2 separate regions of the Homo sapiens genome follow, and region 2 is linked to region 1. The links come from fine-mapping of genetic effects on gene expression. A gene starts in region 1. The other region holds a variant in brackets. All regions are shown on one strand. Distances are between the middles of the regions.

Region 1 (4,384 bases):
CAGGTAGGCACATGACTCTCAGATACTTTTGCCTAGGTGTTTAAAATAACAGGAAAGCCATCATCTTAGTTAAATACATGTACTAAATAGAGAAAAATACATGACAGCCACAGTTGGAATTTTGATGATAAAATGGTAATTTTAACATAAATTGAATAGCATATTTAAAAAAAAAATCTCTGAAACAGTCATTCCAGTGGAACCAAGGAACTGTAGACCTGGCTCGCAGAGGGAGGGAACTTTGCTTTTAAAGGGTCCTGGCTTAGTTGCATTAGTTACTACAGACACCAAACACTTGGATGAAGTTGTTATTAGGATTTACTTTAGGGCCGGGCACGGTGGCTCACACTTGTAATACGAGCACTTTGGGAGACTGATGCAGGTGGATCACCTGAGGTCAGGAGTTTGATACCAGATTGACCAACATGGTGATACCCTTTTTCTACTAAATACAAAAAATTAGGCAGGCATGGTGGCTGATGCCTGTAATCCCAGCTACTTGGGAGGCTGAGGCAGGAGAATCACTTGAACCTGGGAGGTGGAGGTTGCAGTGAGCCAAGATTGTGCCATTGCACTCTAGCTTGGGCAACAAGAGCAAAACTCCATCTCAAAAAAAAAAAAAAAAAAAGAAAGAGAGAGAGAGAGATTTACTTTAGCTTTGTGCAATGTCTGTTATTAAAAGCCTTTGGTGGCCGGGCACGGTGGCTCATGCCTGTAATCCCAGCACTTTGGGAGGCTGAGGTGGGTGGATCACAAGGTCAGGAGATTGAGAACATCCTGGCTAACATGGTGAAACCCCGTCTCTACTAAAAATACCAAAAAAAATTAGCGTGGTGGTGGACGCCTGTAGTCCCAGCTACTAGGGAGGCTGAGGCAGAAGAATAGCGTGAACCCGGGAGGCGGAGCTTGCAGTGAGCCGAGATCGTGCCACTGCACTCCAGTCTGGGCAACAGAGCGAGACTCCATCTCCAAAAAAAAAAAAAAAAAAAGCCTTTGGTTCAGTTTTATTTGTTTTCTGTGTTTAAGCAAATAAACACCCAGTGTTTTCCAAGAGCATTTTGACTCTGGGCTGCTCTCCAGAGAAGCAGGATATAAGCTTGTCCACAAACCCAAATGAAAACAAAGGGCCCACACAATTGCCACGCATCTGGTGACCAGACAAGTTCACTAAATCTCAGCTGGGGTGGAAGTTCCTTGAGACCAGGGAATTTGAGTCACCTTGTAACCCTAAACAAAGCCAGGCATAAGTTGGATGCTTACCATATGTTAGTTAATTGAAAGAAGGAAAAACAGAGCACTGCACTGATAGAGAACAGTGACTGTGCACCTGATGTGCCGCAATGTGGTTTGGTGTTAAAAAAAATCACTCTCATTCATTACTAGTAGGAGTTCAAATGGGAACCACAGTTCCAAAAAAGCAATTTTGGCAACGTGTAATGACAGCCTTAAAACTATAAACACAAAGATGTTCCCTGCAGCCTTATTCATAATTTTTAAAAATAAAAAACAAACTAAACATCTAATAATAGGCTATGTAATCGTCCAGTAGCTCTAGTGGATGGACTATTACATTATTATAATTATTCAAATTAATATTTTCCCGCTTCTTCCCTGCTTTCCTTCAAGAGGTGGGGGAGGCCACCTGGCCCAAGCTGAAGGCCAAGATACAAGAAAAAAATGCAAAGGTTCTATTTTGGCAGCGTTTACATGGGCAGGGTGTCGTGGGGAGGCTGGCGGAGGGAGTGGGAGCAGGTGACAGAGAATATAGGGTAAGTTAGAAGGCTCTCAGTGCTGGTAAAAATAAAATAGAGTAAAGTAAAGGGTGGGGGTAGAGTTGAGGGGGGCGTGATCAGATTTCTGTTCAAATAGGATGGTCTTTTTGCTGTGAACTTAAGACTGCTCTAAGGCCAGGCGCAGTGGCTGACGCCTGTAATCCCAGCACTTTGGGAGGCCGAGGCGGGCGGATCACAAGGTCAGGAGATCGAGACCATCCTGCCTAACACGGTGAAACCCCGTCTCTACTAAAAATACAAAAAATTAGCTGGGCATGGTGGCACACGCCTGTAGTCCCAGCTACTCGGGAGGCTGAGGCAGGAGAATCGCTTGAACTTGGGAGGCAGAGGTTGCAGTGGGCTGAGATCGCGCCACTGCACTCCAGCCTGGGTGACAGAGTGAGACTCCGTCTCAAAAAAAAAAAAAAAAAAAGACTGCTCTAAAAAATAAAGTGTATTAAAAAGAAACTACGATGTTCAGTGTATGCTTCATCTACGGTCAAAGAGGCAAAGACTGAAGTGACAGTGGAAGCCAGGTGGTTATCTGGGAGGCTTACAAGACTATGTGATAGTATGGAAAATACTAGTATTAAGTGAAATGCTGGATGCAAAACTATGCATAGAGGGGAAAAACTGGAAAGAAATAGTAAACACAGCAAAAGTAGTTTGTGTGAAGGATAAATTTTTTAAAATTATTTTTTGTAGAAACAGGGTTTCTCTACATTGCCCAGGATGGTCTCAAACTCCTGGGCTCAAGCGATCAATCCTCCCACCTCGGCCTCCCAAAGTGCACAGGTGTAAGCCACCGCGCCCAGCCGAAGGATAAGGATTTTGGGTGGTGCGCTCTTTTCTCCTTTCCATTTCTGCATTTTCCAATTTACCTTTAGCGACCGTTCTTTCCTGTTAAAAAAAAAAAATTCACGACCTTGAAGAAGATACACGGGCTATGACTTCGCTGTTGTCACCGAGCGCCCCGCCCACCGCGTTCTCCGACCCGCGGCCGGCAGGGGGCTCGCGGCCTCCGCCAGGCGTCCTTCGGCTCCGTCAGTTCCCACAGGGCCTTGTGCGACATGGGCTGCGCCGAGGGCAAGGCAGTGGCGGCGGCCGCCCCAACGGAGCTGCAGACGAAAGGCAAGAACGGCGATGGCCGCCGTAGGTCAGGTACGACCGAGGGCGAAGGCCTGGTCCCCAGGTCGACGGGCCGAAGCGGGCCTTCCGGCCGGGGTTGGGGATAAAGTGCCCCGGAGCCCTGGCCTTGAAGCCCCTCACTGGAGTCAGTGACTGACCGCGCGCCACGCTGGAGACCCCAGAAACGCTCCCCCAGGTCACCCCGGGAGACGGAGGCCGGCGGCCGGCCGAGGGCTGCCCCGCCCGCTGGCTGTGAGAGAGGTGGGAGGTGGAAGGAGGAGCGGGCCCGCCGCGAGGACCTGCCCGGAAACCTGTCGGAAACCGAACCGAGATCTCGGCAGCGACCCGCCTGATTTCGCTCAGGGCCCGTTAGGGCGTCCTCTTCCTACAAGCACCGTGTTTCCAATGAAAGGTTACGGGGGAAGCGACCAAACCGACAGCCGAGTCCGGGGGTGCCCCTTCACCTCTCCAGAAGCCCCCGGCCCACTCCCAGCATCCTCCTCCATCGAGAATCTTGTCCGACACGCCTTCCCGGCCCCCTTTCTCCATCCCCTTGAATTTTGGGCACATTTCTCCCACCATCATCCCGCTTTATCCTTTCACTTGTTCTTCCAGAAGAGAAAGCTCCCAGTCTCTTCTCCATTGTCCGGATAATGCCAATAATGGCTAGTGGTTACTAAGCACTGACATGAGAGGGGCCTTTGGAAGCACTAGACATGGGTAATAATCTTGGTTCATGTTTCCAGCCATACTGAGAGATTTATCATAAACCCCATTATACAGATGAAGAAACTGAGAAGCAAAGAGGTTATAAAACTTACCCAAAGCACACAACTAGTAAGTGGAAGAGCTGGGATACCAGTTGAGGCCATCTGACTCAAAAGCCCTGGTCATAGTCATATGGCCGCCTCCACCTTTTTTATAGGCTTGAGAAAGTGAGGCTCCAAAAAGTGCCTTGCCCAATGGCTAGAATTATTAAATGCTGTAGGATCTGCCTCTTTCAAAGGCTTACAGTTTAGTTACAAGGCAGCATATGGTGAAGGGCTAAAAGGAGTGGTAAAAACAGCCAAGTGGGGATGGCAGCTCCCATAGATGAGGTAGGATTTGGTAGAGGTGTCTGAAGGGAGAACATTCTTGTTAGGGGAAGCAGCCGGTGAGACCATGCTAGAGATAGGGAGGCCTGTATATCCTGCTGGAGTTAAGGACTTGGATTAGGGGAAGGGAAGAATAAAGGAACAGGGTAGGAGCAAGGTCAGGCAAGGTCCAGGTCAGGCAGCTAATTTGTGGCCATTAGTACAATGAAGGAGTTTGAGCAGGTGCATCCCAAATTGACGTTTCATGTGCCATCCTCAGGATCTTCTTGATATCTATGTCCTTCCATTTATTTACTGTTTTTCTTTAGCTACATTCTTTTTGTGTGTGGTTAAAAAAAAAAAATTTACCATCTTAACAATTTTGTTTTTTTTTTTTTTTTAGTTTCGCTC
Region 2 (4,384 bases), 52 kb after region 1:
TGTTATATAAGTTCTTAATTTTCTCAATGACTACAAAATAGTCCATGTATTTACTTAGCCATTCTACTATATTTGGACAGTCTATTGCCAATTTTTTGCTATTGTGGAATAATAGGTTAGAAATGTTTTTCTTTGTACGTGAAGTTTTTGCTGTATTTAGAATTATTTTCTTAGGATAGATTACTGGAATGGATTTATGGGTCAGAGTATGAACAATTCTAAGGTTCTAGAGCCCTTTAAATGGTGTGTACTAATTAATAACTTCATAAGCTCAAAGAGTTCCCTGTACTTAGTAGTAAGAAATAATAATAGGTTTTGGGCCAGGTGCAGTGGCTCCTGCCTGTAATTCCAGTGTTTTGGGAGGCTGAGGCAGGCAGATCATGAGGTCAAGAGATCAATACTAGCCTGGCCAACATGGTGAAACCCCGTCTCTACTAAAAATACAAAAATTAGCTGGGCGTGGTGGCATGCGCCTGTAGTCCCAACTACTTGGGAGGCTGAGGCAGGAGAATCGCTTGAACCCGGGAGGTGGAGGTTGCAGTGAGCTGAGATCACACCACTGCACTCCAGCCTGGTGACAGAGTGAGACTCCGTCTTAAAAAAAAAAAAAAAAAAACTTCCTTTTGCGGGTGGCGGCGAACGCGGAGAGCACGCCATGAAGGCCTCGGGCACGCTACGAGAGTACAAGGTAGTGGGTCGCTGCCTGCCCACCCCCAAATGCCACACGCCGCCCCTCTACCGCATGCGAATCTTTGCGCCTAATCATGTCGTCGCCAAGTCCCGCTTCTGGTACTTTGTATCTCAGTTAAAGAAGATGAAGAAGTCTTCAGGGGAGATTGTCTACTGTGGGCAGGTGTTTGAGAAGTCCCCCCTGCGGGTGAAGAACTTCAGGATCTGGCTGCGCTATGACTCCCGGAGCGGCACCCACAACATGTACCGGGAATACCGGGACCTGACCACCGCAGGCGCTGTCACCCAGTGCTACCGAGACATGGGTGCCCGGCACCGCGCCCGAGCCCACTCCATTCAGATCATGAAGGTGGAGGAGATCGCGGCCAGCAAGTGCCGCCGGCCGGCTGTCAAGCAGTTCCACGACTCCAAGATCAAGTTCCCGCTGCCCCACCGGGTCCTGCGCCGTCAGCACAAGCCACGCTTCACCACCAAGAGGCCCAACACCTTCTTCTAGGTGCAGGGCCCTCGTCCGGGTGTGCCCCAAATAAACTCAGGAACGCCCCGGTGGAAAAAAAAAAAAAAAAAAAGTGATCTGGCTGGACAAACTGAGCCAGTCCCACACAAAATCTTAAAAAAAAAAAAAGAAAAGAAATAATAATAGGTTTTTAAAAATCATTATTTGCCTATTGGAGAGGTAAAAACAGATTTCTTTATCTTAATTTGTATCACTTTGATTATTAATGAGGCACAATATTTTTTCCTGTATGTTGTATTTCCTATGTGTACCTTGCTGGGCTCAGGTGGTCCTCCCACCTTAGCCTTCCAAGTAGCTGGGACTATCTAAATTGTAGTCACTGTGTTGTATTTCATTATCTGAATTGCCTGTTCATTTTCCTCATGGGATAATAATACTAGGAAGAGCCCCGGTGCGGTGGCTTACGCCTGTAATCCCAGTACTTTGGGAGGCTAAGGTGAGTGGATCACGAGGTGGGGAGATCGAGACCATCCTGGCCAACATGGTAAAACCCTGTCTCTACTAAGAATACAAAAATTAGCTGGGCATGGTGACGCATGCTTGTAGTCCTACCTACTAGGGAGGCTGAGGTAGGAGAATCGCTTGAACCCGGGAGGTGGAGGTTGCAGTGAGTTGAGATCACGCCACTGCACTCCAGTCTGGTGACAGAGCGAGAATTCATCT[C/CA]AAAAAAAAAAAAAAAAAAAATTAGTTGGCTGGGCGTGGCGGCTCACGACTGTAATCCCAGCACTTTGTGAGGCCGAGGCAAGCGGATCACAAGGTCAGGAGATCAAGACCATCCTGGCTAACACGGTGAAACCCTGTCTCTACTAAAAATACAACAGGGCCGGGCGCGGTGGCTCACGCCTGTACTCCTAGCACTTTGGGAGGCCGAGGCGAGCGGATCACGAGGTCAGGAGATCAAGACCATCTGGCTAACAGGGTGAAACCCCGTCTCTACTAAAAACACAAAAAATTAGCCGGGCGTGTTGGCGGGCACCTGTAGTCCCAGCAACTCGGGAGGTTGAGGCAGGAGAATGGTGTGAACCCGGGAGGCGGAGCTTGCAATAAGCCAAGATCGAGCCACTGCACTCCAGCCCAGGCGACAGAGCGAGACTCCGTCTCAAAAATAAATAAATAAAATAAAATAAAATAAAAATAAAAAATAAAAATACAACAAATTAGCCAGGCCTGGTGGCGGGCACCTGTAGTCCAGCTACTTGGGAGGCTGAGGCAGGAGAATGGCCTGAACCCGGGAGGCAGAACTTGCAGTGAGCCGAGATCGCGCCACTGCACTCTAGCCTGGGCAACAGAGTGAGACTCCCTCTCAAAAAAAAAAAAAAATAATATAATAATTAATAATAATAGGAAGAAACCTTTATATATAGCTCTTTATTTTCTTTTCTCTTTCTTTCTTTCTTTCTTTCTTTCTTTCTTTCTTTCTTTCCTCTTTCTGTCTGTCTGTCTGTCTTGCTCTATTGCCCAGGCTATAGTGCAGTGGTATGATCTTGGCTCACTGCAGCCTTGAACTCCTGGCTTCATGCAATCCTCCCACCTCAGCCTCCCGAGTAGATGGGAGTACAGGTATGTGCCACCATACCCAGCTAATTTTTGTATTTTCTGTAGAGCTGGAGTCTCATGAGCCACCATGCCCAGCCTGCCTTACTTCTTCCTTTCCTTCTTTCCTTTCCTTTCCTTTCTTTCTTTTTTCTGAGACTATCCCGTAGAACCTTCCATGACCTGCCCCACCTGTCTTATGTATAATGTTCATGGTGTTGATATCATGATAGGTGTTCCTAGATGTGATGGTATCTTTCTTTCTTTCTTTCTTTCTTTCTTTCTTTCTTTCTTTCTTTCTTTCTTTCTCTCTTTCTTTCTTTCTTTCTCTTTCTTTCTTTCCTTTCTTCCTTCCTTCCTTCCTCCCTCCCTTCCCTTTCCTTCCCTTCCCTCCTTCCTTCCTTCTTTCCTTCCTTCCTTCCTTCCCTCCCTCCCTCCTTCCCTCCTTCCTTCCTCTCTCTCTTTTTTTTTTTGAGACTGAGTTTTGCTCTTGTTGCCCTGGCTGGAGTGCAATGGCGTAATCTGGGCTCACTGCAACCTCCATCTCCCGGGTTCAAACAATTCTCCTGCCTCAGCCTCCTGAGTAGCTGGGATTACAGGCACCTGCCACCACGCCAGGCTAATTTTTTATATTTTTAGTAGAGACAGGGTTTCATCATGTTGTCCAGGCTGGTCTCAAACTCCTGACCTCAGGTAATCCACCTACCTACCTTGGCCTCCCAAAGTGCTGGGATTACAGGTGTGAGCCACTTGGACCCGGCCCCTTCCTCTTTCTCTCTGTCTCTCTCTTTCTTTCTTTTATTTTTTATTTTTATTTTTTGAAATGGAGTATCACTGGCTGGGTGCGGTGGCTCACGCCTGTAATCCCAGCACTTTGGGAGGCTGAGGTGGGCTGATCACGAGGTCAGGAGATGGAGACCATCCTGGCTAACATGGTAAAACCCCGTCTCTACTAAAAATACAAAAAAAAAACCCACCCATATTAGCCGGGCATGGTGGCAGGCGCCTGTAGTCCCAGCTACTCCGGAGGGTGAGGCAGGAGAGTGGCGTGAACCCGAGAGGCTGAGCTTGCAGAGAGCTGAGATCGCGCCACTGCACTCTAGCCTGGGTGACAGAGCGAGACTCCGTCTCAAAAAAAAAGAAAGAAAGAGAGTATCACTCTGTCCCCAGGCTGGAGTACAGTGGCACGATCTCGGCTCACTGCAAACTCTGCCTCCCAGGTTCAAGCAATTATCCTGCCTCAGCCTCCTGAGTAGCTGAGACTACAGGCTGCACTACCACGCCTGGCTAATTTTGTATTTTTAGTAGAGACGGAGTTTCACCACATTGGCCAGGCTGGTCTCGAACTCCTGACCTCATGTAATCCACCCGCCTTGGCCTCTCAAAGTGATGGGATTACAGTCGTGAGCCACCGCACCTGGCGTACAGTAGAGCTTCTTTCAAAACTGGAACCAATCCTCTCAAACCCTGCCACTGCTTATCAATTAAATTTATGTCATATTATAAATCCGTTGTTGTCATTTCTTTTTTTTTTTTTTTTTTGAGATAGAGTCTCACTCTTTTTGCCCAGGCACTATCTCAACTCACTGCAACCTCTGCCTCTCGGGTTCAAGTGATTCTCCTGCCTCAGCCTACTGGGTAGCT

Alleles and levels. Positions count from the first base shown, and alleles are read on the strand shown. Sizes are in standard deviations (SD) of each study's normalised expression.
In carriers of allele CA in region 2, the expression in transverse colon of the gene that starts at base 2,819 in region 1 tends to be higher than with C alone (large effect, 1.0 SD a copy in CEDAR).

What was found. PIP is the estimated chance that this variant, and not a neighbour inherited with it, causes the effect.
Region 2: its variant is the best candidate, but not a certain one, in a credible set for the expression of TXNRD1 in transverse colon (CEDAR, PIP 0.78).

Annotation. Positions count from the first base shown.
Region 1 is chr12:104,212,961-104,217,344 of GRCh38, forward strand. TXNRD1 (thioredoxin reductase 1) reads left to right here and starts at 2,819. Exons shown (of 17, transcript NM_001093771.3): 1 at 2,819-2,933. The coding sequence starts at 2,843. RefSeq lists enhancers at 2,595-3,211, 3,212-3,827 and a silencer at 2,682-2,771.
Region 2 is chr12:104,264,654-104,269,037 of GRCh38, forward strand. The region is part of intron 3 of TXNRD1 (thioredoxin reductase 1); the gene reads left to right. All of the region lies in intron 1 of TXNRD1-AS1 (TXNRD1 antisense RNA 1), which reads right to left. It also overlaps the pseudogene RPL18AP3. Among named protein-coding and RNA genes, the nearest start is that of TXNRD1-AS1, 14 kb to the right of the region's middle. RefSeq lists an enhancer at 1,693-1,862. The variant C/CA (reference allele first, on the strand shown) is at 1,871.